3 separate regions of the Homo sapiens genome follow, and regions 2 and 3 are each linked to region 1. The links come from fine-mapping of genetic effects on gene expression. A gene starts in region 1. Each other region holds a variant in brackets. All regions are shown on one strand. Distances are between the middles of the regions. Region 1 holds the start of UTP6 (UTP6 small subunit processome component). Region 2 has its middle 18 kb from the start of VILMIR. Region 3 overlaps SUZ12 (SUZ12 polycomb repressive complex 2 subunit).

The links.
Region 2: its variant is fine-mapped to the expression of UTP6 in esophagus muscle (GTEx, PIP 0.94).
Region 3: its variant is fine-mapped to the expression of UTP6 in whole blood (INTERVAL, PIP above 0.99).

The regions. Positions count from the first base shown.
Region 1 is chr17:31,895,750-31,906,447 of GRCh38, reverse strand. It overlaps UTP6 (UTP6 small subunit processome component), which reads left to right and starts at 4,740. Exons shown (of 19, transcript NM_018428.3): 1 at 4,740-4,912; 2 at 6,718-6,802. The coding sequence starts at 4,821. RefSeq lists enhancers at 4,746-4,795, 4,481-5,072, 5,116-5,265.
Region 2 is chr17:32,059,391-32,070,088 of GRCh38, reverse strand. No RefSeq gene overlaps it. Among named protein-coding and RNA genes, the nearest start is that of VILMIR, 18 kb to the left of the region's middle. The variant G/C (reference allele first, on the strand shown) is at 5,836.
Region 3 is chr17:31,983,321-31,991,320 of GRCh38, reverse strand. It overlaps SUZ12 (SUZ12 polycomb repressive complex 2 subunit), which reads right to left. Exons shown (of 16, transcript NM_015355.4): 10 at 2,824-3,001. Among named protein-coding and RNA genes, the nearest start is that of LRRC37B, 20 kb to the left of the region's middle. The variant C/T (reference allele first, on the strand shown) is at 3,517.

The DNA.
Region 1 (10,698 bases):
GGCTTTCTCCAGTAGGTAGTTTTTTTTTTTTTTTTTTTTTTGAGGGGAGTCTCGCCTTGTTGCCTGGGTGGGAGTGCAGTGGTGCAATCTCAGGTACTATCTCTCTTTTTGAGGGCTCCTTCTATGAGTTGATATTTCAAAATATTTATGTGATGCTATTAGGTGAGTTAATACATAAAGGACTTTGGCCAGGCATGGTGGCTTATGCCTGTAATCCCAGTACTTTGGGAGGCCGAGGCAGGTGGATCACCTGAGGTCAGAAGTTCAAGACCAGCCTGGTCAACATGGTGAAACCCCGTCTGTACTAAATATACAAAAATTAGCCAGGCGTGGTGGCGGGCGCCTGTAGTCTCAGCTACTCAGGAGGCTGAGGCAGGAGAATCACTTGAACCTGGGAGGCCGAGGTTGCAGTGAGCTGAGATCATACCATTGTGCTCCAGCCTGGGCAACAAGAGCGAAACTTCGGCTCACAAAAAAAAAAACAAAAAAACATAAAGGACTTAGAACAGTGCACATAGTAGCTGGGCACACAATAAGCCCTACATAATGACAGCTTTTTTTTTTTTTTTTGAGACAGAGTCATGGGGTTTCACCATGCTGGCCATGCTGGTCTTGAACTTCTGACATTGTGATCTGCCAACCTTGGCCTCCCAAAGTGCTGGGATTACAGGCGTGAGCCACTGCGCCGGGCCAATGACAGCTATTATTATGAGATGCAGAAGTGAAAAGAAGGCTTTGTCATTTCTGTCATAATAATTCTTTTTTTTTTTGAGACAGATTCTCATTCTGTTGCCCAGGCTGGAGTGTAGTGGCACGATCTCGACTCACTGCAGTCTCTGCCTCCCGGGTTCAAGCGATTCTTGTGCTTTAGCCTCCCAAGTATTTTTTTTTTTTTTTGAGACGGAGTCTCGCTCTGTCTCCCAGGCTGGAGTGTAGTGGTGTGATCATGGCTCACTACAACTTCCGCCACCCAGGTTCTAGCAATTTTCCTGCCTCAGCCTCCAGAGTAGCTGGGATTCCCGCCACCATGTCTAGCTAATTTTTGTATTTTTAGTGGGGGGGTATTTCACCATGTTGGCCATGCTGGTTGTGAACTCCTGACCTCAGGTGATCCACCTGCCTTGGCCTCCAAAACATCATAATAATTCTTTCTTTTTTGGGACAGAGTGTCGGTCTGTCACCCAGGCTGGAGTGCAGTGGCGTGATCTTGGCTCACTGCAACCTCCATCTCCCGGGTTCAAGCGATTCTCCTGCCTCAGCCTCCCGAGTAGCTGGGACTACAGGCACGCACCACCATGCCCGGCTAATTTTTGTATTTTTGGTAGAGACGGAGGTTTCACCATGTTGGCCAGGCTGGTCTCGAACTCCTGACCTTGTGATCCACCCACCTCGGCCTCCCAAAGTGCTGGGATTACAGATGTGAGCCACTGCGCCTGGCCCATCATAATAATTCTTGAAGGTAAATATAAAAGCTAGGCAGGGCGGGGTGGCTCACATCCCAGCACTTTGGGAGGTGGAGGCGGGTGGATCGATCACAAGGTCAGGAGTTCCAGACCAGCCTGGCCAACATGGTGAAACCCCGTCTCTACCAAAAATACAAAAATTAGCTGGGCGTGGTGGCGTGCGCCTGTAGTCCCAGCTACTCAGGTGGCTGAGGCAGGAGAATCGTTTAAACGGGAAGGCGGGGGTTGCAGTGAGCCGAGATCATGCCACTGCCCTCCAGCCTGGGCAACAAACTGACACTCCGTCTCAACAACAACAACAACAACAACAACAAGAATATATACATAAACGCTAAATTTTGGCCAGGCGTGGTGGCTCATGCCTGTAATCCCAGCACTTTGGGAGGCCGAGGTGGGCGGATCACCTGAGGTTAGGAGTTCGAGACCAGCTTAGCCAACATAGTGAAACTCCGTCTCTACTAAAAAGACAATAATTAGCTGGTCGTGGTGGTGGGCGCCTGTAATCCCAGCTACTCGGGAGGCTGAGGCAGGAGAATCACTAGAATCTGGGAGGCTGAGGTTGCAGTGAGCCAAGATCACGCCACTACACTCCAGCCTGGGCAACAAGAGCAAAACTCCATCTCAAAAAAAAAAAAGCTAAATTTCAAAATAAGGGAGGATCGCTGGGCGTGCTGGCTTATGCCTGTAATCCCAGAATTTTGAGAAGGGGAAACAAGATGATCACTTGAGGCCAGGAGTTCAAGACCATGGTGACAATACAGTGAGACCCTGTCTCTATTTACAAAAACAAAAACACCATCCTCGGCAACATAGTGAGACCCCTGTCTCTACAAAAAAGAAAAAAGGAAAATTAGCCAGGTGCGGTGGGGCACACATGTAGTCCCAGCTACTTGGGAGGCGGGGGTGGGAGCATTGCTGGAGCTCAGGAGGTTGAGGCTGCAGTGAGCTGTGGTCACACCACTGCACTCCAGCCTGGGTAATATAGTAAGACCCTGTCTCAAAACAAAACAAAAACGTAATTAGGCCGGGCATGGTGGCTCACGCCTGTCATCCCAGCTACTCGGGGGATCGCTTGAACCCAGGAGGTGGAGGTTGCAGTGAGCCGAGAGCGCACCACTGCACTCCCCATTAGGCAACAGAGAGAGGCCACCAGGCCCAGCTAATTTTTTTGTATTTTTAGTGGAGACGGGGTTTCTCCATGTTGGCCACGCTGGTCTTGAATTCCTGACCTCAGGTTATCCGTGGCCTCGGCCTCCCAAAGTGCTGTGATGACAGGTGTGAGCCACAGTGCCTGGCCAGCGAGGCTCGGTCTTAAAAAGAACAACAAAACAAAACAAAACAATATAAAGGAGGAGCGTATTTATAGTTAGTTTGATTTAAAAATTGGGCGGGCGCGTTGGCTCACGCCTGGAGTCCCAGCACTTTGGGATGCTGAGGCGGGTGGATCATGAGGTCAGGAGATTGAGACCATCCTGGCCAACATGATGAAAACCTGTATGTACGAAAAACACAAAAATTAATTGGGTGTGGTGGCACGTGCCTGTAGTCCCAGCTACTCGGGCGGCTGAGGCAGGAGAATCCTTTGAACCAGGGGAGTCGAGGTTGTGGTGAGCCGAGATCGCGCCACTGCACTCCAGCCTGGTGACAGAGCGAGACTCTGTCTCTAAATAAATAAATAAAATAAAATAAAATAAAAATCATGGTTAATTTATGAAGGTCTCTATCAAATTTACTTTGAAATGATTACAGTCTGTCATAACTTGCTGACTTCCTTGTACCTAAAGAAATTTAGCAAGTACCTTTTCTTAGTGTCATGCATTTATTAACTGAGTACTTATTATATGGTAGGCACTGCTATAAGCTGTAGAGTATCTAGCCAGTCAAAAAGGAAAAAATTCCCTGCCCATATGGAGTTTACTATCTAGTGTCATCTCCACTCTTACTGTTAACACAGCCCCAGAGATTTTACTTTTACAAATAAATTCTATCTTTGTCTTACATTCGTGATTTCCTTCCACTTCTGACATGTCTTACAGCTGAAGGATTCAAGAAATGGTGTAGCACAAGCCAACCCTCGTCTCAGTTCTGAGATGAGTGGGTAAAATGTGAAAGGAAAGAAAGAAATGCAAGGCACAGAGGTGGAACATGGTTTTGCTGAGCCCATTCTCCTTTCATAAATCACACACAGGATCCAGGTGCTAATGTGAATGTTGAAATAAGCAGATTTAGCAAGAACTGCTGCTTTGGCTTTTTTATATCCAGAACTAAAAAAGAACTGAACCATGTAGTTATCATTTGAGGTTTACTAACTATACCAGCAATATTGCCTCCAAGCTGTGTTGCCTGGTGTTTCTCTTAGAAATGCTAAGTTGCTTGGGCAATGGTTTAAGGAGGGTGTCTATACCTTAGTGATTTATTTTGGTAATTCTCAAACTTTTCAATACAAAAATCTCCTTTTCTAAAAAGAATTTATAGTGTCTGATATTCACCTAGGGACATATATTTTGAAAGCTATTGCTTACAAAGACAGGATATTGATTTAAATAATAAACAATTCTATTTTATTTATTTATTTATTTAGAGACGGAGTTTCACTCTTGTTGCCCAAGCTGGAGTGCAATGGCGCGATCTCGGCCTCCCAGGTTCAAGCGATTCTCCTGCCTCAGCCTCCCGAGTAGCTGGGATTACAGGCGCGTGCCAGCACGCCCAGTTAATTTTTTTGCATTTTTAGTAGAAACGGGGTTTCATCATGTTAGCCAGGATGGTCTCGAACTCCTGACTTCAGGTGATCTGCCCGCCTCGGCCTCCTAAACTGCTGGGATTACAGGCATGAGCCACCGCGACCGGCTTTCAAAAATGTTTAATTGTACAATATCCTCCTCCTTTGCTTTTTTTTTTGTTGTTGTTCTTGGTGTTGGGAAGTCAGGACGTGGGATGGGAGACAATATTCTGAAGAAAATGCATCTCGTGTCCCTTTCAGGCTTGAGCAGCCCACCTCTCTACACCTGGAGGCGCTTTTCCTGATGGCTGTCCAAGTCTAGCGGCGCGCGCACTTAACCCCTCCCTCCCGTCTAGCCCCGCCCCTCAACTCCTGTCCGCTAGAGTCGTCCTGCCCAAGACCAGGGCGGGTTCTCGCTGCAATCCCACAATCGGCCACAGGGAGGGGACGGTGGCTGTAGAAGCCGAAGGGCCTTCCCCTAAGTAGGAGGTGGCGGAAGCGGAAAAGGCGGGACCTAGGGAGCACGTTACGTCCGGACGCGTCGGTGGTAGGGCTGGGTCTCCGAACCTGAAACCGGGAGCTTCCTGCTCGTGTTCGCTGTTGAGAAGCTACCCGCGGGGTTGTAGACCTCGGACCTCATGGCAGAGATAATTCAGGAACGCATAGAAGATCGGCTCCCGGAATTGGAACAGCTGGAGCGCATTGGACTGTTCAGTCATGCGGAGATTAAGTGAGAGAGGGTTGGGGAGAGGGAAGAGCTGAGGCGGCCTGAGGGGAGGTTGGGAGTGTGTGGCAGGGGCTAGATGTGGGGACGCTCGACCTGTGTTTACTTTTCCTAACGTGGTGGAAGCCCATTTCTCGTTTTCGGTGATGTCCAGAATTAATTTTTCATTCGTTGCAAGGTAATCCGTCCGTCTACTTACCCATCAGACGTTTTGACAGCCCTTCATGGAGCCGGGTCTTAGGGCTGTAAAGGTGATAAACCCAGGATTCCTGCTCATTAGGAGCTAATTGGGCAGAGTGTGGTGGGGGAGACAGACAAATTAAATATTTTGATAACAGTGTACTGTAAGTTGATTGTAGTACCTTGTACTGCTGTAGGGATGGGAACAGAGTGCTGTGAGAGCCCAGGGGGAGTGGATAAATTCCTAACTAGACTTGAAGGTGGGGACCATTGAAATCAGTTTCATATGCTACTCCAGAGCCTAACTACAGCGCCTGGCACATGGTAGACATTCAGTAGCGTGTTAAAATTATGTTTAATAGTTTTTAATGGTTTCTGTGACTGTTGCTTTGTTTTGCAACGTCTGAATGTAGTAATGTGACTCAGAGCTTCAAAGTAAGCATTCGTTAATGAAACACAAAACAAAGCAGTGTGGACGCTTAGAAAGTGCTCAGTTAAGGTTAATGTTACCATTACTAAAGACACCTGTCTTGCACATCTTGCATTAAATTCTCCTAATATATATTTGTCATATGTTCATTCCTTAGCTAAGGACTCTGAATCTTCTCCCGTAAGTCCTTCGTAGTAATAAGTCTTTTAAGGCAGACGCAATTTAGATTTTTAAAAAAATTTACATGTTGAGAACTCAGAAATAAGAGGAATTTCGGAAAGAAATTTATTATTAAAATTTAAGTGACCTGAACTTGGAGTAAAAGAAGTCTTTATTAATACCAGCCAGGCGCTGTGGCTCACGCCTGTAATCCCAGCACTTTGGGAGGCCGAGGTGGGTGGATCACGAGGTCAGGAGTTCGAGACCAGCCTGGCCAATATGGTGAAACCCCGTCTCTACTAAAAATACAAAAATTAGCTGAGCGTGGTGGTGAGCGCCTGTAGTCCCAGCTACTCGGGAGTCTGAGGCAGGAGAATCGCTTGAACTCGGGAGGCCGAGGTTGTAGTGAGCCAAGATCATGCCACTGCACTCCAGCCTGGGCGACAGAGCGAGAAAAAAACAAACAAAAAAAACACCATACATAAATGGTATAAAGTTCTTAATTGTATTTGCTTTGCTGGTGGGAATGTCATTGGTTTTGGGAGTTGATTAAGATGATTTTCCTGAAAGTTTAAAAATGAACCCTTAAGAACACAAAAGTAATTGTGTAAGAGAATACTTTTTTTTTTTGAGATGGAGTCTTGCTCTGTCGCCAGGCCAGAGGGCAGTGGCGCGATCTCGGCTTACTGCAACCTCCGCCTTCCAGGTTCAAGCAATTTTCCTGCCTCAGTCTCCCGAGTAGCTGGGACTACAGGCACGCACCACCACGCCCAGCTAATTTTTGTATTTTTAGTAGAGATGCAGTTTTACCATGTTGACCAGGGTGGTCTCAGTCTCTTGACCTCTTGATCTACCCGCCTCAGCCTCCCAAAGTGCTGGGATTCCAGGCATGAGCCACTGTGTCCGGCCGATAATACTTTCTTATGAAAGATAACTCTAGGAATTTCGTATTTTGAAAAACATGTTTTAAATATATTCAAAATAAACTTAAACGTTTAATTTTTGCAGTTTTCAAGTGAAGTTTAAATGGCTTTCTCCTCAGGGCTATCATTAAGAAGGCTTCCGATCTAGAGTACAAAATCCAGAGAAGAACCCTTTTCAAGGAAGACTTTATCAATTATGTTCAAGTAAGTGTGTAATTAATAATTTCTTTCTTTTTTTCTTTTTTGTTTTTTGGTGAGATGGCATCTCACTCTGTCACCCAGGTTGGAGTGCAGTGGTGTGAATGGTGTGATCTCTGCTCACTGCAACCTCTGCCCTCCAGGCTCAAGCGATTCTCCTACCTCAGCCTCCTGGGTAGCTGGGACCATAGATGCATGCCACCATGCCTGGCTAATTTTTTGGTAGAGACTGGGTTTTGCCACATTGCCCAGGCTGATCTCAAGGGATCCACCCACCTTGGCCTCTCAAAGTGCTGGGCTTACAGGTGTGAACCACAGTGCCCGGCCAATAATTAATAATTTCATTACTTTTTTTTGAGGCAGGGGCTCGCCTTTCACCCAGGCTGAAGTGCAGTGGTGCCATCATGGCTCAGTGTAGCTTCCACCTCCTGAGCTGAAGCCATCCTCCCACCTCAGCCTCTGGAGTAGCTGGGACTACAGGTGTGTGCCAGTATGGCTGGCTAGCTTTTGTGTTTTTTGTAGAGACAGGGTTTCGGCATGTTGCCCACGCCCAAAATGCTGGGATTACAAGTGTTTGTGAGCCACCGGGCCCAGCCTTACTTTTTTTATTTTTGTTTTTGAGACAAGAGTCTTGCTCTGTCACCCAGGCTGGAGTGCAGTGGCGCGATCTTGGCTCACTGCAACCACTGCCTTCCGGGTTCTAGTGATTCTCAAGTCTCATCCTCCTCAGTAACTGGGATTACAGGCGTATGGCACCGCACCCAGCTACTTTTAGTAGAGACTGGGTTTTGCCATGTTGGCTAGGCTGGTCTCGAACTCCTGGCCTCAAGCAATCCACCAGCATCGGCCTCCCAAAGCGAGTGCTATGATTACAGGCATGAGGCATCATGCTCGGTCCTAGCCTTACTTTTTAATCCCTTCACAAATTGATTGATTGGTTGATTAATTGAAATAGAGTCTCTCTGTGTCACCCAGGCTGGAGTGCAGTTGCACAGTCTCTGCTCACGCTCACCGCAACCTCCGCCTCCTGGGTTCAAGTGATTCTCCTGCCTCAGCCTCCCATTCCTTCACAAATTTAAAATCAGTTCTAGAATGATGAGCTTAACATCAAATTTTTTTTTTTTTTGAGATGGAGTTTCACTCTTATTGCCCAGGCTGGAGTGCAGTGGTGCGATCTCGGCTCACTGCAACCTCCGCTTCCTGGGTTCAAGCAGTTATCTGCCTCAGCCTCCTGAGTAGCTGGGATTACAGGTGCCCACAACCACGCCAGGCTAATTTTTGTAGAGACAGCGTTTCACCATCTTGACCAGGCTGGTCTTGAACTCCTGACCTGGTGATCCACCCGCCTCGGCCTCCCAAAGTGCTGGAATTACAGGCATGAGCCACCACGCCCGGCCAACATCAGTTTTTTAAAAAAATTAAAAGAATTCCAGAAACGTTCATTAGATAGATATTTCTGAACAGGAGTAGCATTGGGAGTAGCATTACTCCACTAAGACTGTAGTCCTGGCCAAACTGAACTTACTTTTCCCCTCCTCTTTCTCTCTTGTCGTTTTCTTTCTTTTTTTTTTCTACTGGGTTTGTAGATCAGAGATTGTCAGAGACATAGTGTGTATCAGGACTTCAGCAAGAGATTTGCCTCTTGGTGAGCAAGATAGAGGAGAGTGAATGTGATGAGTGTAGAGAATTGAAAAGTTACTGCTTGTTTATCTATTGTCTGTCCACTTGGAAAGAGGTGTACTGCAAGATTTTTTCATCTTGTAAATGCATGGAAGGTTTGAATAAAGAAAAATTATGTCAGACCAATTTTCCAGTGGGGGAGAATAGCTAATATGTTGGATGACGGAATCAGGATTCAGAAAGAACCAATAACAAGATCACATGTTTATAAGACTAGAAGTTTTGGTTGGGCATGGTGGCTCATGCTGTAATACCAGCACTTTGGGAGGCTGAGGCAGGCAGATCACCTGTGGTCAGGAGTTCGAGACCAGCCTGGCCAACATGGTGAAACCCCCATCTCTACTAAAAATACAAAAATTAGCCGGGTGTGGTGTTGGGTGCCTGTAATCCTAGCTACTCAGGGGCTGAGGCAGGAGAATTGCTTGAACCCAGGAGGTGGAGGTTGCAGTGAGCCAAGATTGTGCCATTGCACTCCCAGCCTGGGAGACAAGAGCGAAACTCCATCTCAAAAAAAAAAAAAAAAAAAAAGACTAGAAGTTTTGAGCTTAGATTTAAAAAGACAAAAGACAGCCGAACAAACAATATATGAACCTTGGCTAAGCTATTGTTTTTGGAAGAGGTCCTATGAGTAGATTGCTCACTCAAAATGAGCCAAGACCATATTATGTCAAAAATAGATTTTTTTTTTTCCAAATAATACACTCACTCTTGCCCAGGCTGGAGTGCAATGGTGCGAGCACTCATTGCAGCCTCGAACTTCTAGGCTCAGATGATCCTCCTGCCTCAGCCTCCCAAGTAGGTAGGACTACAGGCTTGTGCCAGATGGCTGGCTAATTTTCTTATTTTTTGTAGAGATAGGGTCTCCTTATGTTGCCCAGGCTGGTCTTGAACTCCTGGGCTCAAGTGATCCTCCTGCCTTGCCGTACCAGAGTTTTGGGAATTACAGACTTGAGCCAGTGTGCCCAGCCAAAAGATTTCTTAAAGCTAAATTAGACTGTGAAAGCACAAACCATGAGAGAAAAGACTGATTTATTTGATTGTGTTCAAAATACAAATTTCTGGAGGGGCGTGGCGGCTCACGTGTGAGACAGGCAGATCGCTTGAGCCCAGGAGTTCAAGACCAGCCTAGGCAACATGGCAAACCCCATCTCTACAAAAAATACAAAAATTAGCTGGGCATGGTGGTGCACACCTGTAGTCCCAGCTACTCTGGAGGTTGAGGTGGGAGGATCAGTTGAACCTGGGAGGTGGAAGCTGTAGTGAGCCATGATGGCGCCATTGCACTTCAGTCTGGGTGATAGAGACCCTGTCTCAAAAAAAAAAAAAATTTTTTTCTGTGCAAAAAAGACACTACAAATAATGTGAAAATACAAGCCACAAAATGTGAGAAAATATTTACAACACATAATTAGAACTACATATACACATATATAAAGAACTGTAAATCGAGAAGAAAATGAAAACTAAAAAGAAAAATGGGCAAATCATGTGAACGTGAAAGTCACAAAGGGGAAACATCACTTGTAGTTAAACTTATGAAAAGACATCAGCCTTATCAGTAATTAGTTAAATAAAGATTAAAACAAGGTGTAGGGGCCGAGCGCGGTAGCTCATGCCTGTAATCCTAGCACTTTGGGAGGCTGAGGCGGGTGGATTACTTGAGGTTGGGAGTTGGAGATCAGCCTGGTCAACATGGTGGAACCCCATCTCTACTAAAAATACAAAAATTAGCCAGGCACGGTAGCACGTACCTGTAATCCCAGCTACTGGGGAGGCTGAGGCAGGAAAACTGCTTGAATCCGGGAGGCGGAGGTTGCAGTGAGCCTAGGTTGCGCCACTGCACTTCAGCCTGGGCGACAGAGCGAGACTCCATCTCAAAAAAACAAACAATAAAAAAAAACCAGGTGTAGGACTGCTTTATATTCATTATAAGAGCAAACTTTTTTTTTTTTTTCTTTTTTGAGATGGAGTCTCGCTCCGTCACCCAGGCTGGAGTGCAGTGACATGATCTCGGCTGACTGTAACCTCTACCTCCTGATCAGCCTCCCAAGTAGCTGGGATTACAGGCACACACCACCAGCCTCGGTGAATAGGGATATAGCTAAAGGGATAATGTTGAGTAGAAATATGGATTGATGGGCCGGGCACGGTGGCTCATGCCTATAATCCCAGCACTTTGGGAGGCCAAGGTGGGTGGATCACTCGAGGTCGGGAGTTCAAGA
Region 2 (10,698 bases), 160 kb before region 1:
AAAAATACAAAAATTAGCCAGGCATGGTGTTGCATGCCTGTGGTCCCAGCTACTTGGAAGGCTGAGGTGAGAAGATCACTTGAGCCTGGGAGGTCCAGGCTGCAGTGAGCCGAAATCATGCCATTGCTCTCTAGCCACGCTGAGTGACAGAGCAAGACCATGTCTTTAAAAAAAAAAAATAAGTTGGCCAGGCGTGGTGGCTCATGCCTGTAATCCCAGCACTTTGGGAGGCCGAGGCAGGCGGATCATCTGAGATCAGGAGTTTGAGACCAGCCTGGCCAACATGGGGAAAGCCCGTCTCTCCTAAAAACACAAAAATTAGGGGACGTGGTGGCAGGCGCCTGTAATCCCAGCTACTCAGGAGGCTGAGGCAGGAGAATCACTTGAACCTGGGAGGCGGAGGTTGCAGCGAGCCTTGATTGCGCCATTGCACTCCAGTTGGGAGACAAGAGCAAGACTTCATCTCAAAAAAAAAAAAAAAAGTGAATATAATAACATCACGTTCACAGGTTGCAGGGGCCAGAATGTGGACACATCCTTTTTGGGGGCCACCATTTGACACACTATATTCCCTCCTGGAGCTGCAGCCCTGGCCGTGAAAGGAAAGGAGAGGAAAGCAAGAAGGAAGGGGCCCCTGCACTACCCAGACCCCCAGAACATGATGCTGGTGGGGATGGAGGAGAGGCAGAAGGAAATAGGATTGAAGTCTAAATCAAGGCCCCAGCCTGGGTCTGGACATTCCTTGTTTTGAATTGAAGCCAAGCTGCCCTGTGACTAAGGCAACTCCAGGAACATCTGTTATCTGAGATGAACAGAGAACAAAGTCATAAAGCTAAGATTTTATCAAGGGGATTGTGGGGCAGGGGGGACACGTTTCCCTGTGAAAAGCACGTTATAGAGATCATGAGAGATCAGCCCTTGACTGAATTCACACAATGCTGGTTCATTTCATCACAGGGACCACCTGACCCCCAGGATTGTTCTAGAAGGTCTTTTTCTCTAACATCTCCACACCAATCCCTCTCCACCTGCCGCTCCCACCTTCCACTGGGTCCCCATCCTCCTCTGGGCTGGGGCCCTGCCTGCCTGCCATCCATTCACTCAACAAACACTTATTATTATTTTTTGAAACACAGTCTCGCTCTGATGCCCATGCTGGAGTGCAGTGGCATGATCACTGCTCACTGCAGCCTCTGCCTCCCAGGTTTAAGCAATTCTCATTTCTCAGCCTCTCGAGTAGTTGGGATTACAGGCATGCATCACCACACCTGGATAATTTTTGTATTTTTAGTAAAGACGGGGTTTTGCCATGTTGGCCAGGCTGGTCTTGAACTCCTGGGCTCAAATCTGTCCGCTCGGCCTCTCAAAGTGCTGGTAGTTACAGGCGTGAGCCACTGCGCCCAGCCCTAACACTTATTGAGCACCTGCTGTATGCCAAGGGCCAGGGAAGGGGGCAGCATACAGAGCCAGGAGAGAACAGTGTGGAGGAACTTCCCTTTTGGAGCTGACTTTCCAGTGGGAGACCTGGGCGATGACAAGATGAACAAGGAGTGAATATTCTGTGGTGTAGCCAAAAGTAGCCAGTGCAATGGAGAAAATACAGCAGCCTCAGGCCTGTAATCCCAGCACTTTGGTAGGCCGAGGCGGGCGGATCACTTGAGGCTAGGAGTTCAAAACCAGCCTGGTCAGCATGGCAAAACCCCGTCTCTACTAAAAATACAAAAATTAGCCAGGTGTCATGGAGCATGCCTGTAATCCCAGCTACTGAGTAGACTGAGGCAGGAGAATCACTTGAACTCGGAGGTGGAGGTTGCAGTGAGCTGAGAGCACACCACTGCACTCCAGCCTGAGCAACACAGCGAGACCCTGTCTCAAAAAAAAAAAAAAAAAGCAGCAATAAGAGTCTGTGGATGTTGTAAATTGGGTGTGTGTGCATCAGAGAAGGCTTCCCTGGGGAGGGGCACAAGTGAAGGGAGACCTGGAGGAGGTGAGGGAGGAGCCATGTGGATATCTGGGGGAGGATGACTCAGGCAGAGGGAACAGCCTGTGCAAAGGCCCTGAGGCAGGATGTCTTTGGTGAGTTTGGAGAACAGTAAGGAGGCCCATCTGCTTGGAGAAAGCTGGGTTTTCTGGCCTCCGTGAGGACTGGAGTTTTGCTCTGAGTGAGGCAGTTGGTAAGGAGAATAATGCCCTCCTTCCCAAGATGTCTACTTCCTCATCCTAAACTTTCAAGATCTCGTGGCCTGGGGAGGATAGGAGAAAGGGGCTGGTAACTGCTCCAGCGGGTTGATAAATATGGGTACTTCAGGGAGGCTTCCTGGAGGAGTGTCAAGCATATGACTGGCTTGAATTGCGGGAGAGGCAGGCTGAGCAGGGAGCAGGTGCCCAGGGAGAGGCAGAGGACAGGTGAAACACTTAAAAGTGTCTAAAGGAGAAAGAGTCCTTTGGACACAGCCAGGCCCTGAGAAGCAAGGTTAGTGAATTGCTACCTCATGCAACAAAAGGGACTTTGCTGATTAGGTAATTAAGGACCTTCAGACAGGGAAATGACCTTGGATCATCTAATCACACAAGTCCTTAAAGTGCAAGGGGGCGGCAGAGGGGAGTTGAAGGCTGTCATATGAGAAGGACTTGACTCGTCATTGCTGGCTTTGAAAATGGAGGGAGGGCCCACGAGCCAAGGAATGCAGGCAACTTCTAGAAACGGGGAACAGACAACCAGCAAGAAAACAGGGGCCTCAGTTCTACAATCCCGAGGAACTGAATCTTGCACCCCTAAATGAGCAAGAAATAGATCGTCCCCTAAAACCTCCAAGAAAGGACTGCAGCCTGCTGACATCTTGGTCTTAGGCAGGTGAGACCCGAACCACATCTCTGACCTCTAGAGCTGTAGGATAATTTGCGTCGTTAAAAAAACGCTAGCTTGTGACGGCAACCATGGGAAATTAACACAAGTTGGGAGCCTTCCGGGTTCTGAGCGGGAGGAGGGGGCGTGGCCTGATCAGGTGTTCGCTCGCGCCCTCTGGAGGCTGCGGAGGGAACAGGCTTCAGGGCCAGGCTGGAGACCTGAGCAAGGGTAGAGGGAACTGCACAGTCCAGGTGAGGGATGCTGGGCTGGACCAGGTGAGGGCCGGGGAGGTGGGGAAGAAATGAAGTCCGAGGTTTGAACGTGGATGGAAAGAGAAAAAAAGAGAGAACTCCAGCGGGGCGCGGTGGCTCACGCCTGTAATCCCAGCACTTTGGGAGGCCAAGGTGGGAGAATCACTTGAGGTCAGGAGTTCGAGACCAGCCTGGCCAACACAGTGAAACCCCGTCTGTACCAAAAATACAAAAAATAGCCAGGCGTGGTGCTGCACGCCTCTAGTCCCAGCTACTCGGGAGGCTGAGACAGCAGACTTGCTCGAACCCGGGAGGCGGAGGTTGCAGTGAGCCAAGACTATGCCATTGCACTCTAGCCTGGGCGACAGAGTAAGACTCCATCTAAAAAAAAAAAGAGAGAGAGGACTCCAGTCAAGGATGACCAGAAGCCTCTGAGCTGGGAACTTGGAGTCTCCCATTCCCTCCACCCCAACTCCACTAGTCCCTACCTCCCCTTGGCCTCACCTGCTAGCAGTTGTCCCAGGCGGAGGCCACATGCTTCCCTCTCCTCTGAGGCCTTGCCCCTGCCTGTGACCTCTCACTTGTCACATCTGCTGTCTCTGTTCTCAAGACAGGAAGTCAGATGGGAGTTGAAGACGGCTGGGACCTATGAGTCCCCAGGCCCCCAGAGGGATTCCGGATTTGAGAGTCGGCCTCCTCCCTCCCATCCAAGCCCAGCCCTGCCAAATCAGCTCCCAGCGCACTCCCTGGTCTGCACTTCTTTCTCTGTCTCTTTCTCTCTCTGGAATTTTCATTCTCTTTTTGGTAACCGAATTATCCCATCTCCGCCTCTCACTGGGGGCCACCCACAGAGGCGTGGGAGAGGAGGGGCCCAGGTCGCAGCGCGAGATATTAAACCATCAATCACCCGCCAACGCCGACTCCCCCGCACCAGGACCCTCCGTTGGCTCCACCTGGAAGCAGACCAGCTCCAGTGCAGGCCTGGAGGCCTGGGGACCCCATCAAAATGGGAGGCCTTGGAAGAATCTCACAGGCCCTGCATCCACCTGGGCAGGTGCCTGGGTGCAGATCGGCCTGGCTCAATGCACAGAAAGGTGTCCTGGGTTCAAATCTACAAGCTACTTCTTATCCACACATGGGAGCCACTGCATTGCTCTGTGTCTTGGTTTCTCCACCTGTAAAATGGTGATAACAGCCGGGCACGGTGGCTCACGCCTGTAATCCCAGCACTTTGGGAGGCTGAGGCGGGCAGATCACCTGAGGTCAGGACTTCGAGACCAGCCTGGCCAACATGGCAAAACTCCATCTCTACTAAAAATATAAAAATTAGCCAGGTGTGGTGGCGTGCCCCTGTAATGCCAGCTACTTGGAAGGCTGAAGCAGGAGAATCACCTGAACCCAGGAGTCAGAAGTTGCAGTGAACCGAGATTGTACTACCACACTCCAGCCTGGGGGACAGAGCGAGACTCTGTATTAAAAAAAAAAAAATGGTGGTAACATTTTCTACATCACTGGGGTTCACTGTCAGGATTAAACCAGTTAAGGCAGATGGCAATATCTGGCTGATAGTAACTCCTGTCTAGGATTTGCTGCTAGAATGATTTTCCTTTAAGATTGGGGGGGTCATTCACTTGTGAAGGAAATCCAAGATTCTTGGCTTTTGGGGGGACTTAATGGGGTTCATACTTGTGTCACCTCACAGCTGCTGCCTTGTATAGGTTGGAATTGGATTTTTTTTTTTTTTTTTTGAGATGGAGTCTTGCTCTGTCGCCCAGGCTAGAGTGCAGTGCACGATCTCGGCTCACTGCAACCTCCGCCTCCCAGGTTCAAGGAATTCTCCTGCCTCAGCCTCCTGAGTAGCTGGGACTACAGGCACATGCCACCACACCCAGCTAATTTTTTTTTATTTTTAGTAGAGACGGGGTTTCACCATCTTGGCCAGGCTGGTCTCGAACTCCTGACCTTGTGATCCAGCTGCCTCGGCCTCCCAAAGTGCTAGGATTACAGGCATGAGCCACTGCGCCTGGCCGGAATTGGATTTTTTTGTTTTTTGTTTTTGAGACAAAGTCTTGCTCTGTCACCCAGGCTGAAGTGCCGTGTGGTATGATCATGGCTCATTGCAGCCTCAACCTTCTGGACTTAAGTGATCCTCCCACCTCAGCCTCTTGAGTAGTTAGGATCACAGGCATGAGCCGCCACACCCAGGTCTAGGGGAAAAAAAATTAAAGGCTCTTTCAGAACCTTAACTAGGGCCAAGCAACCCATATTTCAAGGCGCTCAATTCACAAAACAAGGTCTCAGTGCTTTGCACAGGCTGTTCCCCCTGCCTAAAATGCTGTTCCCTCAGCCAGCCACGTGACTCCTCCTTGCCTGCTTCTGGGTTTGCTGCAATGTCACCTCCTCAGTGAGGTCACTTTGTAAAAATTGCACCCAGGGCCCCTGCCCGCCCCCACCCCTCCCAGCTGTATGTCCCTCCATAGCATGCACCCCATTTTGCATACCGTATGCAGTGCTTGTGGGGTTTGCCTGTTCATCCCACTGGAGTGTTAACCCCAGAGCAAGGTTCATTCATTCACTGCCCAGCATGGCACCTGGCATGAAATAAACACCCAGTAAATACTTGTTGAGTGAAAGCATGAACAAATTCCATTCAGCTGCTCCCAGAGGACCCCACAGGCTGCAGCCAGCTCAAAGCTGCTGTAGCTGGGCCTGTCAGCAATCTTGGGTTTCCTGGAG[G/C]GGGGTGGAGGGGGTATCACTGGATGTGTTCAGAGATGCAGCTGGTTCACTGTCAACTTTGTGTGGACTTTTCTTTTTTTTTTGAGGCTGGATCTCACTCTGTCACACAGGCTGGTGTGCAGTGGCGTGATCACAGCTCACTGCAGCCTCCACTCCAGCTATCCTCCCACCTCAGCCCCCTGAGTAGCTGGGACCACAGTTGTGCGCCACCATGCCTGGGTAATTTTTGTATTTTTCATAGAGACAGGGATTCACCATGTTGCCCAAGCTGGTCTTGAACTCCTGAGCTCAAGCAATCTGCCTGCCTAGGCCTCTCAAAGCAGTGGGATTACAGGCGTGAGCCACAACGCCCGGCCAGGATGTTTATTTTGTCATTATTTATTTATTGTAGAGATGGTGGTCTCCCTATGCTGCTTAGGCTGGTCTTCAGGTCCTGGGCGATCCTTCCGTCTTGGCCTCCCAAAGTGCTGGGATTACAGGCATGAGCCATGGTGCCCGGCCTTGTGTAGATCTTTAAAAGGTACCCCTTCCTTGCTGGGTGCCGTGGCTCATGCCTGTAATCCCAACACTTTGGGAGGCTGAGGTGGGCAGCTCACCTGAGGTCAGGAGTTCGAGACCAGCCTGGCCAACATGGTGAAACCTCGTCTCTATTAAAAATACAAAAATTAGCTGGGCGTGGTGGCGGGTGCCTGTAATCTCAGCTACTGGGGAGGCTGAGGCAGGAGAATTTCTGGAACCTGGGAGGCAGAGGTTTCAGTGAGCTGAGATCGTGCCATTGCACTCCAGCCCAGGCAATAACAGTGAGACTCCATCTCAAAAAATAAAATAAATAAAATAAAATAAAATAAAATAAAAGGTACCTCTTCCTCTGGGCAGATGCAATGTGTGGTGAGGGGAACAGATGATGTTAGCTTCTGCTCTAGCCTCTGTCTGGCATGCTTGTGCAGTGCGCAACTTGCACAACTGTTCTTGGCAGTACTGCTACTGTCCCCCATCTCTTGAGTAGCTCAGAAGGTGGGGGGCGCTGTGAAGACCAAGTAACCAGAGGCTGGACCTCTACACCCAGGTGTTTAGAGGGCCAAACCCCAACCTCTGTGCCCAGCTCATTGCTGGTGAAAAATCTGCCAAGGAACTGGACTGTTCTGGTGACACCCCAAAGACTCCCCTCCTGGTATCCCCAGCAGTGTCTCCCTTGCTCCTCCGGACTAGTGGTGCGGTGCCCTCGCCTTCCCCAGCCCCCTCTGCACGTTTCCACCCAGCCAGGAGTCCCACACTTGCCTGCTTCTCCCAACTCTCTCTCTCTCTCTCTCTCTCTCTCTCTCTCTCTCTCTCTCTCTCTCTCTCTCTCCAGCACAGTGGCTATTTTTATTTTTCCTTCTTATTAAATTTCCAACTTCTGCAAACACCATGGCCTCTGCCTCGCCGCGCCCCCCCACCTTCCCTTAGGGCGGATTTGATTCACTTGCGTTTTATTAACAGATTAAAAAAAAAAAAAACCCGCAGCTGCCACCACAATGTGACTTTCTCCGCTTTCCTGGAGGTTTAGGGAACTGGGCTACAGGATCCCCTCCGGGTTTAAATTTGCCCTCCTCCCCACTCCCAGGGACCTTCCCATCACAGCCTGAGCGGCGAGGTCGGGAAGGGGCTGGGGAGTGAGGTTGGATCTCGTTCTGGGTTTAGGGGGGACTGGGATGGGTGTCAGGCCTGATGCGGTTCCCCCAGCCAGGGACTCGTCCCAAGGCGGAACTGGAAATTAAAAAAAAAAAAAAAAAAAAAGCAATCCGTTGGGAAGCCCCGCCCCCGCCTCGCCCCCCACCCCAGACCCTGGGTGCTAAACGCTTCGGGTGGGAGGGGCAGCCTCGGGGGTGGGGGCTTAGAGTTGGCGCCTCCCACACAGAGCTGGGGTCGCCCCTACCCTCTCTCTCTTAGGATGGCTGGCAGGGGGCCTTGGGAAGGTTTGCCACCTACCCAAGCCCGGCTCGCTCAGTTTTCTTTCCTCCTTAGGACATTCTGATTCCGGTGCTGACTCCCAGACCTGAGAGCAAATTGCTTCTTCATGCCCCGGGGTGTTTTCCTCCCCTCAAGTCTTTTTTTTTTTGTCAGTCGCCATGGCAACCAAGAACCCAGCTGCACTATACTTCCCTGGGATACAGGATGGGGGTAGGGGGTGATGGCGAAACTAACTGGGTCGTTTAGGCCAGGACCTTCCTACCCTCCTCTTTGCCCCCTCTCTTAGTCCTCCACCCCTTCCCCACACCACCTGGTCCAGCCTTGATTGACAAGAGGGCAGGTTGCGCCTGTCGGGGTTACCCATCTTGGTGGTTGGGCCACAGCTTCCTTCTGGGTCACTCTGTTCTGGGAAGGTCCTTCATTTGGCCCGAGGACTAAGGCTCCAGCTGTCAGTGAAATCCCTTTCCCCTTCCTTTCCTCCACTCTTTAGTCCCTCAGTCAGGGTGGGCTGGTACGGTTGGGCAGGTTGGACACTGCACAAGGGGACACTGAGTGTGTTCAAACTAAGCTCCCGATTTCCATTGCTCCCTTACTCCATAGCACACTACAGACTAACCTCTCCTCTGCCTTACTGACACCAACTCTCTGTTTGCTATCAGGAGAGCCAATGATTTCAATAAAATACTTCAGTCCTGGTCACACCCCAATGCAGAGCTGAAGAAAGGAAGTCCAATCGGGAATTTGGGGCCTTGAACAACCCAAGCCACAGCTCCTGTGGGAGCTTAGAGAGAGTGCAAACCTGGGCAGAAAGAACTTCTACAGAGGGCCGGGCGCGGTGGCTCATGCCTGTAATCCAGCACTTTGGGAGGCCGAGACGGGCGGATCACGAGGACAGGAGATCGAGACCATCCTGGCTAACACAGTGAAACCCCGTCTCTACTAAAAATACAAAAAATTAGCCGGGCGTGGTGGTGGGCGCCTGTAGTCCCAGGTGTTCGGGAGACTGAGGCAGGAGAATGGCGTGAACCCGGGAGGAGGAGCTTGCAGTGAGCCGAGATCGCGCCACTGCACTCCAGCCTGGGTGACAAAGCGAGACTCCGTCTCAAAAAAAAAGAACTTCTACAGGGGCCAAAGCTAGGGTCGAGGACCATAGAATGCCTTGGGGTACCCAGGGAGGGGCAGGGAATGATTATCAAAAGCCCCAAAGGAATCATGGGGCTGGTCAAGTTGGCTTCACGGACCCAATTCTACCGCCCACCATCTATACTCTTTGCCTAGGTAGCTCCTCCCACTGGGAGGTGGAGCCTACTTCCACACCCCTTGAATCTGGGTTGGTCTCGTGATCTCCTTTGGCCAATCAATGGATTGCAGCAGAAGTGAAGTCACTTCCCAATCTAGGCCTGAAGAGGTGGTACATCTTTCTGGTCGACGTCTGGAAACCCTGCCCCTGTCAGGTGACCAAGCCCGAGCTAGCCTGCTGGAGGATGAGGGAAGAATCCTGTTGTCCTAGACCAGCCTATAGCCAGCCGGGCCCAAATATACGAAAAGACCCAGCCTGAATAAATACAGTGTGACTCTTGGACCCATAGACGCTGGTGGGTGAGCCCAGCCAGGAGCAGAAAAACTGCCCTGTAGCCTGCGAAGCCAAAATTAATGCTGATTGTCCTAAGCTGCTGGATTTGGGCGTTGTTAGGCAGCTTTTTTTTTTTTTTTTTTTTTTTTTGGCTCAGTCTCACTTTGTGGCCCAGGCTGGAATGTAGTGGTGCAATCTTGGCTCACTGCAGCCTCTGCCTCCCTCCCGGGTTCAAGCGATTCTCCTGCCTCGGCCTCCTGAGTAGCTGGGATTACGGACACCCGCCACCACGACTGACTAATTTTTGTATTTTTAGTAGAGACGAGGTTTTGCCATGTTGGCCAGGTTGGTCTCAAACTTGTGGCCTCAAGTGATCCACCTGCCTGGCCTCTCAAAGTGCTGGGATTACAGGCATGAGCCACTGTGCCTGGCCTTTGTTAGACAGCTTAACTGGCAACAGGTAACTGACAAGGAGCCTGGCAGGCACAGGTGTGCATTGGTCAGCACGTCCCCTTGCCCACGAAGGAGCTAGACTCAAATCCCGGGGTCCCTGAAATTGATTGTCAACTCTTTAACTTCCTGAGGAATCCTTCCCCATTTTTCCTTTATTTGTTTCTTTTTTGTTTGTGTTTTGGCATGGCCTTCCAATGAAATTCCCCATTTTTCCTTTTTCTTTCTTTCTTTTTTTTTTTTTTTTTTGAGACGGAGTCTCGCTTTGTTGCCCAGGCTGGATTGCAAAGTGGCGCGATCTCGGCTCACTGCAGCCTCTGCCTCCCAGGCTCAAGCGTTTCTCCTGCCTCAGCCTCCCGAGTAGCTGGGATTACATGTACCACCATGCCCCACTAATTTTTGTATTTTTAATAGAGACGGTGTTCCGCCTTGTTGGCCGGGCTGGTCTCTAACTGCTGACCTCGGGTGATCCGCCCGCCTTGGCCTCCCAAAGTGATGGGATTACAAGCGTGAGCCACCGTGCCCAGCCCCCCATGTTTTCTTTCCTTGATATATCTCTGATTGCACCTCCTCTCCTCTCTCTCTCACTTCCGTCCAGCCACATCAGCCTCCTAGCTGATCTCTACTTCTCCATGCTAGTTCCCACCCCAGAGTCTTGGCACCCGCTGTTCCTCCTGTCTGGAACCTTCTTCCCCCAGATCTCTATGTGTATCCTCCGCTTTTTCTCCTTCAGGTCTCTGTTCATGTGCCTGATCCTCTGAGGTGCCCTCCTTAACTCAGAGAGATACGTCTCCTTCCAGGCCCTCACCAACCTACTACTACTGCTCCCAATGGGAGCCACATCATGTCCAGCCTAGGACGCTAAAGTTGACCCAGGGCTCAGATGGGAG
Region 3 (8,000 bases), 86 kb before region 1:
GGCTGGTCTTGAACTCCTGGGCTTCAAGCAATCCACCCACCCTGGTCTCCCAAAGTGCTGGAATTACAGATGTCAGCCACTGCGCCCGGCCCCATTTCTTATATCTCTTTAATCTGACCATTACTGTCACCTGCACACAATGAGTGTACATGAGTGGTCAAGGAGGACAACTTACGCCTTCTGCCTTCTTTAAACAGGCAGATAAAGACACATGAGTGCTCTCTCAGGTCAAGGACAATGTACCTACTGGACAGACACAAAAATGACAGAACTTGGCCAGGCGCAATGGCTCAAGCCTGTAGTCCCAGTACTTTGGGATGCTAAGGTAGGTAGATTGCTTGAGCTCAGGAGTTTGAGACCAGCATGGGTGATGGCAAAATCCCATCTCTACCGAAAAATACAAAAATTAACAGGGCGTGGTGGCACGAGCCTGTAGTCCCATCTATATGGAGGGCTAAGGTGGGAGGATCGCTTGAGCCTGGGAGGCGGTGGTTTCAGTGAGCTGAGATGGCACCACTGCACTCCAGCCAGGGTGAGAGAGAGAAACCCTGTCTCAAAAAAAAAAGTAAAATAAAAATGATAGAACACTGCAACTTGGGCCTTAAACTCAGCAGAAAGTTAACTCTATTTGTAAATGTTTTTTCCTCTTAAAAACTGGCTGGGCGCGATGGCTCATGCCTGTAATCCCAGTACTTTGGGAGGCCGAGATGGGTGGATCTCCTGACATCAGTAGTTTGAGACAAGCCTGGCCAACATGATGAAACCCTGTCTCTACTAAAAATACAAAAATTAGCCAGGCCTAGTGGTTGTGTGCCTGTAATGTCAGCTACTCGGGAGGCTGAGGCAGGAGAATTGCTTCAAACCGGGAGGCGGAGGTTGTGCTGAGCCGAGATCACGTCACCGCACTGCAGCCTGGGCGCGGTGGCTCACACCTGTAATTCTCAGCACTTTGGGAGGCCCAGGTGAGCAGAGCACGACGTCAGGAGGTCCAGACCATCCTGGCTAACACGGTGAAACCCCATCTCTACTAAAAATACAAAAAAAGTTAGTCTGGGCCTGGTGGGTCACGCCTGTAATCTCAGCACTTTGGGAGGCCGAGGCAGGCAGACCATGAGGTCAGGAGATTGAGACTATCCTGGCTAACACGGTGAAACCCCATCTCTACTAAAAATCCAAAAAAAAAAAAAAAAAAAAAAAAATTAGCCGGGCATGGTGGCCGGCGCCTGTAGTCCCAGCTACTCGGGAGGCTGAGGCAGGAAATTGGCATGAACCCAGGAGGTGGAGCTTGCAGTGAGCTGAGATCGCACCACTGCACTCCAGCCTGGGCGAGACTCCATCTCAAAAAAGAAAACAACAAACAAAACAAACAAACAGAAAAACTTATATGTGAGTTATAAAAAACATAGTTCCTGGGCTGGGCACAGTGGCTCGTGCCTGTAATCCCAGCACTTTGGGAGGCCAAGGCGGGCGGATCACAAGGTCAGGAGATCGAGACCATCCTGGCTAACAAGGTGAAACCCCGTCTCTACTAAAAATACAAAAAAAAAAAAAAAAATTAGCTGGTCGTGGTGGCAGGCGCCTGTAATGCCAGCTACTCAGGAGGCTGAGGCAGGAGAATGGCATGAACCAGGGAGGCAGAGCGTGCAGTGAGCCGAGATTAAGCCACTGCACTCCAGTCTGGGCAACAGAGTGAGACTTCGTCTCAAAAAACAAAAAAACAAAAAAAACAAAAAAAAACAACTTAGTTCCAAAGCTCTTTGTAGTTGTGATTCCAAAATCTTAAAAGCTAATCTGAAAACCAATAGTTTTCTTGTAAGTTTCTGGCAAATTTGTTTAGTGGAAAAACTTGCTCTAACTTACCATGAGGACCCCACTTCAAGATGTTATATATGATATCTATACTATGTACCATATCACGCTTCAATTTTTTTTTTCAATTCAAATTTCTAGGCACACTTGGCACAAAGGTTCTGGATAAAGAATTTTTACTACTACTTCAACACAAGACTTTACACTTAATATAGGAGAACCTTAATTTACCATGATTCATAACCTACCCAATAAGCCAGATAATATTCTGAAAGGCTAATCACATAGAGGCCAGCAGAGGTGGCTCTCACCTGTAATCCCAGCACTTTGAGAGACTGAGGCGGGCAGATCATGAGGTCAGAAGATGGAGACCATCCTGGCTAACATGGTGAAACCTCGTCTCTACTTTTTTAATTTATTGACTTACTTTTATTTATTTTTTTTGAGATGGAGTATTGCTCTGTCTCCCAGGCTGGAGTGCAGTGGTGCAATCTCGGCTGCAACCTCCACCTTCTGGGTTCACGCCATTCTCATGCCTCAGCCTCCCAAGTAGCTGGGACTACAGGTGCCCGCCACCACACCTGGCTAAATTTTTTTGTATTTTTAGTAGGGACGGTGTTTCACCGTGTTAGCCAGGATGATCTCCATCTCCTGACCTTGTGATCCGCCCGCCTCGGTCTCCCAAATGCTGAGATTACAGGTGTTGAGCCACTGCGCTCGGCCAACCCTGTCTCTACTAAAACTACAAAAAATTAGCCAGGTGTGGTGGCATGCGCCTGTAGTCACAGCTACTCGGGAGGCTGAGTCAGGAGAATCATCTGAACCCACAAGGCAGAGGTTGCAGTGAGCCGAAATCACGCTACTGCACTCCTGCCTGGGCAACAGAGCAAGACTCCATCTCAAAAAAAAAAAAAGAAGAATCACATAAAGCAAAACACAAATGAATTAATCTAAAGCACAAGACCTAACTCTGCAAACCATTATTTTATTATTTTGATTGCAATGTTTTCTTACCAATAGTTTGAGTAGGTTTAACTGAACCAGGCTTGTTTTCCTGATGGAGACTCTCTGAATTTCTAGTGGCAAGAGGTTTGGCAATAGGAGCCGTAGATTTATCATTGGTCTCTCCTGTCCAACGAAGAGTGAACTGCAACGTAGGTCCCTGAGAAAATGTTTCGAATGGAGGCAGCCTCTAAAAAATAAAAAACATGCAAAGACTGGAGACTCAGATAATGAATTCAAATAAATTGTAGAAATTAAAAAAAATTCATTATAAGTCAATGTGGATTTGCCTTAATAGATTTGTCTTGAAAATCCAAATGCTGACTGAGACGGCTAGGCAAACAAAGTAAAAGTATGGACCAGACACTGTAGAACTTGAACTGGAGAGCACAGGCTGTCTAAAAGAGGCGACCACTGATCAGCAACAGGTGAATTGTTGCCATGTGAAAACACTCGTCCAACACAGACAGATTTTCAGATTTTTCCAAATAGGTCAGAAATCAAAGTTATCATGGGAAAATTTCCCATTTAGGTTGTTGCTAACCAGTTCAAATGTCTTTTTTTTTTTTTGAGATGGAGTTTCACTCTTGTCGCCCAGGCTAGTGTGCAACTGGCATGGTCTCAGCTCACTGCAACCTCCCCCTCCCAGGTTCAAGCAATTCTCCTGTCTCAGCCTCCCAAGTAGCTGGGATTACAGGCACCTGC[C/T]GTCACGCCCAGCTAATTTTTTGTGTGTGTGTTTTTAGTAGAGACGGGGTTTCATCATCTTGGCCAGGCTGGTCTTGAACTCCTGACCTCAGGTGATTTGCCTGCCTCGGCCTCCCAAAGTGCTGGGGTTACAGGCATGAGCCACCACGCCTGGCCTTGAAATGTCTTAAAAATAAAATTGTGGTACCCAAAGCCCACCAGCATGCAACCTTTGCTCTTAGGTGACCAATTACTTTTTTTTTTGTAAATTGAACAGCTTTTCAATTAGTAATTTTCTTTGACTTCTCTCAGTTTCACTGACAATGACTGCCAGTGCTTCCCTTCTTTGATTTTACAACACTGAGCTATTGAAAATAGCTAACTTTTAGCCATCTGACCGAATCACTCAACCATCCTCAAGAATTTACCTATTAAGCTGATGATCCCAAATTGGTTCTGCATTCTTATCCTTACACTTGAACTGTAAACTCGTATCTCCAATTGCCTCTTGGACACTGCCAGTTGATCTCAATGTCACCTTGAACTAAAACATGTTTAGAAGTGTATCCAGTATCTTTTCTTCTAAAACACTTTCCTTCTCACGTTATTTTTGTTCTTGTCATTATCATTCTACTAGTGACCCTAAGCTAAAAATTTTGGAATTATATTTGACTCCTATCCTTTCGTTTCTCATGCAATTACCAAGTCCTTTTTAAAATGTTTATCATTTCTTCCTTGTCCTTCAAGGATCACAAAAAAACAAAAAAACAAAAAAACCTTTGTTATAGATCAGTATTGCCTTACTACTAGAGTATCTCAGTTGTTCTACTTGCTTCTGATTTTTACTTTCCTATTCAAATATAGGAGAGATCAAGTAGTCTTCAATGAGCTTCAATTTATTTTACTGCCACAGAGGCCTAAACTCCTTCTATATCATTATTACAAAGTAATCCTCTTAAAACTATTTAGATTAGAGGACCGGGCGCAATGGCACACGCCTGTAATCCCAGCACTTTGGGAGGCCGAGGAGGGCAGATCGTGAGGTCAGGAGTTCGAGACCATCCTGGACAACATGGTGAAACCCCGTCTCTACTAAAATACAAAAAATTAGCTGGGCATGGTGGCTGGCGCCTGTAATCCCAGCTACTTGGGAGGCTGAGGCAGGAGAATCGCTTGAACTCGAAAGGCAGAGGTTGCAGTGAGCCGAAATTGCACCATTGCACTCCAGCCTGGAGACAGAGCAAGACTCCATCTCAAAAAACAAAACAAAACAAAACAAAAAACTACTTAGACTAGAATGTAGTAAAAGTGTGTTCAGAGACTAGTTTGGACACAGCAGTCCACAGGAATTTATCTTATAAAATACTTGATACAGGTTCAAGTATAATCACTATTAACATTTTTGACAAGATTAAAAAAAATCAAATAACCCAATTATCTATTAGACCAGCACTGGTTTAGTCAATTAAGGAACCCAAACAAAACAAAACAAAACAAAAAATCTCAGAACTTTTAAAAAGAAGTAAATCTATATGCTCTGACTTAAAAGGATGCCCATTTTACAGGGTTAAGAGCTTCCAGATAGGCCGGGCACAGTAGCTCACACCTGTAATCCCAGCACTTTGGGATGCCGAAGTGGGTGGAAAACCTTAGGTCAGGAGTTTGAGACCAGCCAAGACAACATGGTGAAACCCCCAGGCCTGGTGGCGCATGCCAGTAATCTCAACTATTCAGGAGGCTGAGGCAAGAGAATTGCTTGAACCCAGGAGGCAGAGGTTGCAGTGAACTGAGACCGCGCCATTGCACTCCACCTCTGGGTGACAGAGCGAGACTCCATCTCAACAGAAACAAACAAAAAAAGGCCAGGCCGGGCACGGTCGCTCATGCCTGTAATCCCAGTACTTTGGGAGGCCGAGGCGGGTGGATCACAAGGTCAGGAGTTCGAGACCAGCCTGGCCAACATGGTGAAACTCCATCTCTACTAAAAATATGAAAATCAGCTGGGCATGGTGGTGCACACCTGTGATCGCAGCTACTCAGGAGGCTGAGGCTGGAGAATCGCTTGAACCCGGGAGGCGGAGGTTGCAGTGAGCCAAGATCATGCCACTGTACTCCAGCCTGGGTGACAGAGTGAAACTCCATCTCAAAAACAAAACAAACAAAAAAAAAACAAAAACAAAACCAACAACAACAAAAACTCTTCATATATATAATCCTTATAGTCTCATGAATAAAAACATACTTTAAAACAAGAAATTTAAAATGAAAAAGATCATAAAGATAAATCCATGCAGAAAACCCAAACAGTATAGATAAAAATTATTTGAAATCTCATCACCTGGAGTTAACCACTATTATAAATTTTAGAAACAGGGAAAATATATATATATATATGTATACAGTTATGTAAAAATTTAATATGGAAATCTTGTAAACTATCATCCTTTTTAATAGCTTTTTAGATTTAACATGTTTCTAATGTTTCATTATTTAAAAAATGCTGAGAAAACCTGTTACCTACATCTTTTGTTAACAAGTTACTACACTGTGACAAAAATATAAAATTTGAATTGTTAAAGACTATATATACAATTTTAACTTTATATATATTGCCAGTCTGCCCTATAGTAAGACTGTATCAACCTTTTTTTTTTTTTTTTTTTTTTTGAGACAGAGTCTTGCTCTGTTTCCCCGGATAAAGTGAAGTGGCAAAATCTCAGCTCACTGAAACCTCTGCCTCCCAGGTTCAAGTAATACTCCTAAACCTCCCAAGTACCCAAGTAGCTGGGACTACAAGCACCTGCCACCATGCCTGGCTAATTTTTGTGTTTTTGGTAGAGATGTGGTTTGACATGTTGGCCAGGCTGGTGTCAAATTCATAACCTCAGGTGATCCACCCGCCTTGGCTTCCCAAAGTGCTGGGATTACAGGCATGAGCCACTGAGCCCGGCCCCAACTTACTGTTACATCAAAATATTATTTGAGAGTATATGTGTCCTCACGTCCCTAAAACACTAGAAACTGTCAAACTTTTAATCTTTGTCGAACTCTCAAAAGTATCTCTGCATTTGCATGCCTTTGAGTACTAATAAGGTTGAGTACTGCTTTAAAAGTCTGCTGGCCATCTATATTTGTTTTTTTAAGAACTGCGTGAGAGTCCTTGACACATATTTCTTATTAGACTGCGTATCTTTTTCTTGTTTTATAATTCACAATATTATGTATTCATATTAGCATTTTGTGTTACAGATACTTCCCCCATTCCATAATTTGTTTGTAACTTTAGATATTTTGCAGTATAAAAATGACTAATTTTAACCCGACAATTTTTACTTTATGCTTTCTTACTTTTCAATCATCCTTAGAAAGGTCTTCCTCACTGCAGTATATTAACATTCACCTATTTTTTTTCCATGCTTATGAATGTTCATTTTTACATGTTTATGAGCCTTGCAGAATGTATTAGGTCTAAGATTATTTCCAGATGACTGGAGAAGAGTTGTCACAATTAATGAACAGTTTCTCTTTCTCACATAGCTATACCACCACCTTTATCATGAACTAAATTTCAAATATACATCAAACTATTTCAGGACTATGCCTGAATGATATGCTTGAATGATATGCTTGTCTATTCCTATGCTTATACCATAGGGTTTAAGTTCTCTTAACTTTATGGTATGTACTACTGTATATCGTATATCATACTAAAACTGGTAAGTAAAAATTCTCAAAATATTTTTCTAAAATTTCCCTTAGTATTACTAAATACTTATCCTTCTAGATTGACTTGGAACTAATTTTAAGGCTTAAAAAAATCCTTATGAGATTTTGCATTGGATGGTAACACTGATCTAACATATTTAGAAATAAAAGACATCGTTACAGTTTTGAATCTACCTATTTAAGAAATGCATGGATTCCTCTTTATCTCTTAAAAGAGTTATCTTAAGTACGCTTAATCTAAATTCTGCAGATTTCTTGATAAATGTATTACTAGTCATCCCTTATTACCTGCCATTACAATGAATAGAATTTAAAATAGCCGTTAACATTTATTGAGCACTTATTGTATGCCAGGCACTGTACTAAATATTTTATTATTTCATCTAATCCATCAATTCTATGTCTCATGTTACAGGAGAAGAAACTGAGACATGGATAAGTAACTTGCCAAACGCCACATAGCTAGGAGCAGACATTTGAATCAGGCAGTCTGGCTCTCAAAGTATGATGCCTTCCGTGTGGCCGGGTGCAGTGGCTCATGCCTGTAATCCCAGCGCTTTGGGAGGCCAAGGTGGGCAGATCACAAGGTCAGGAGTTCCAGACTAGCCTGGCCAACATGGTCAAACCCCGTCTCTACTGAAAATAAAAAAAAATTAGCCAGGCGTGGTGGCACGCAGAATCACAGAATCACAGCTACTTGGGAGGCTGAGACAGGAGAATCGCTTGAACCCGGGAGGTGGAGGTTGCAGTGAGCCGAGACCATGCCACTGCACTCCAGC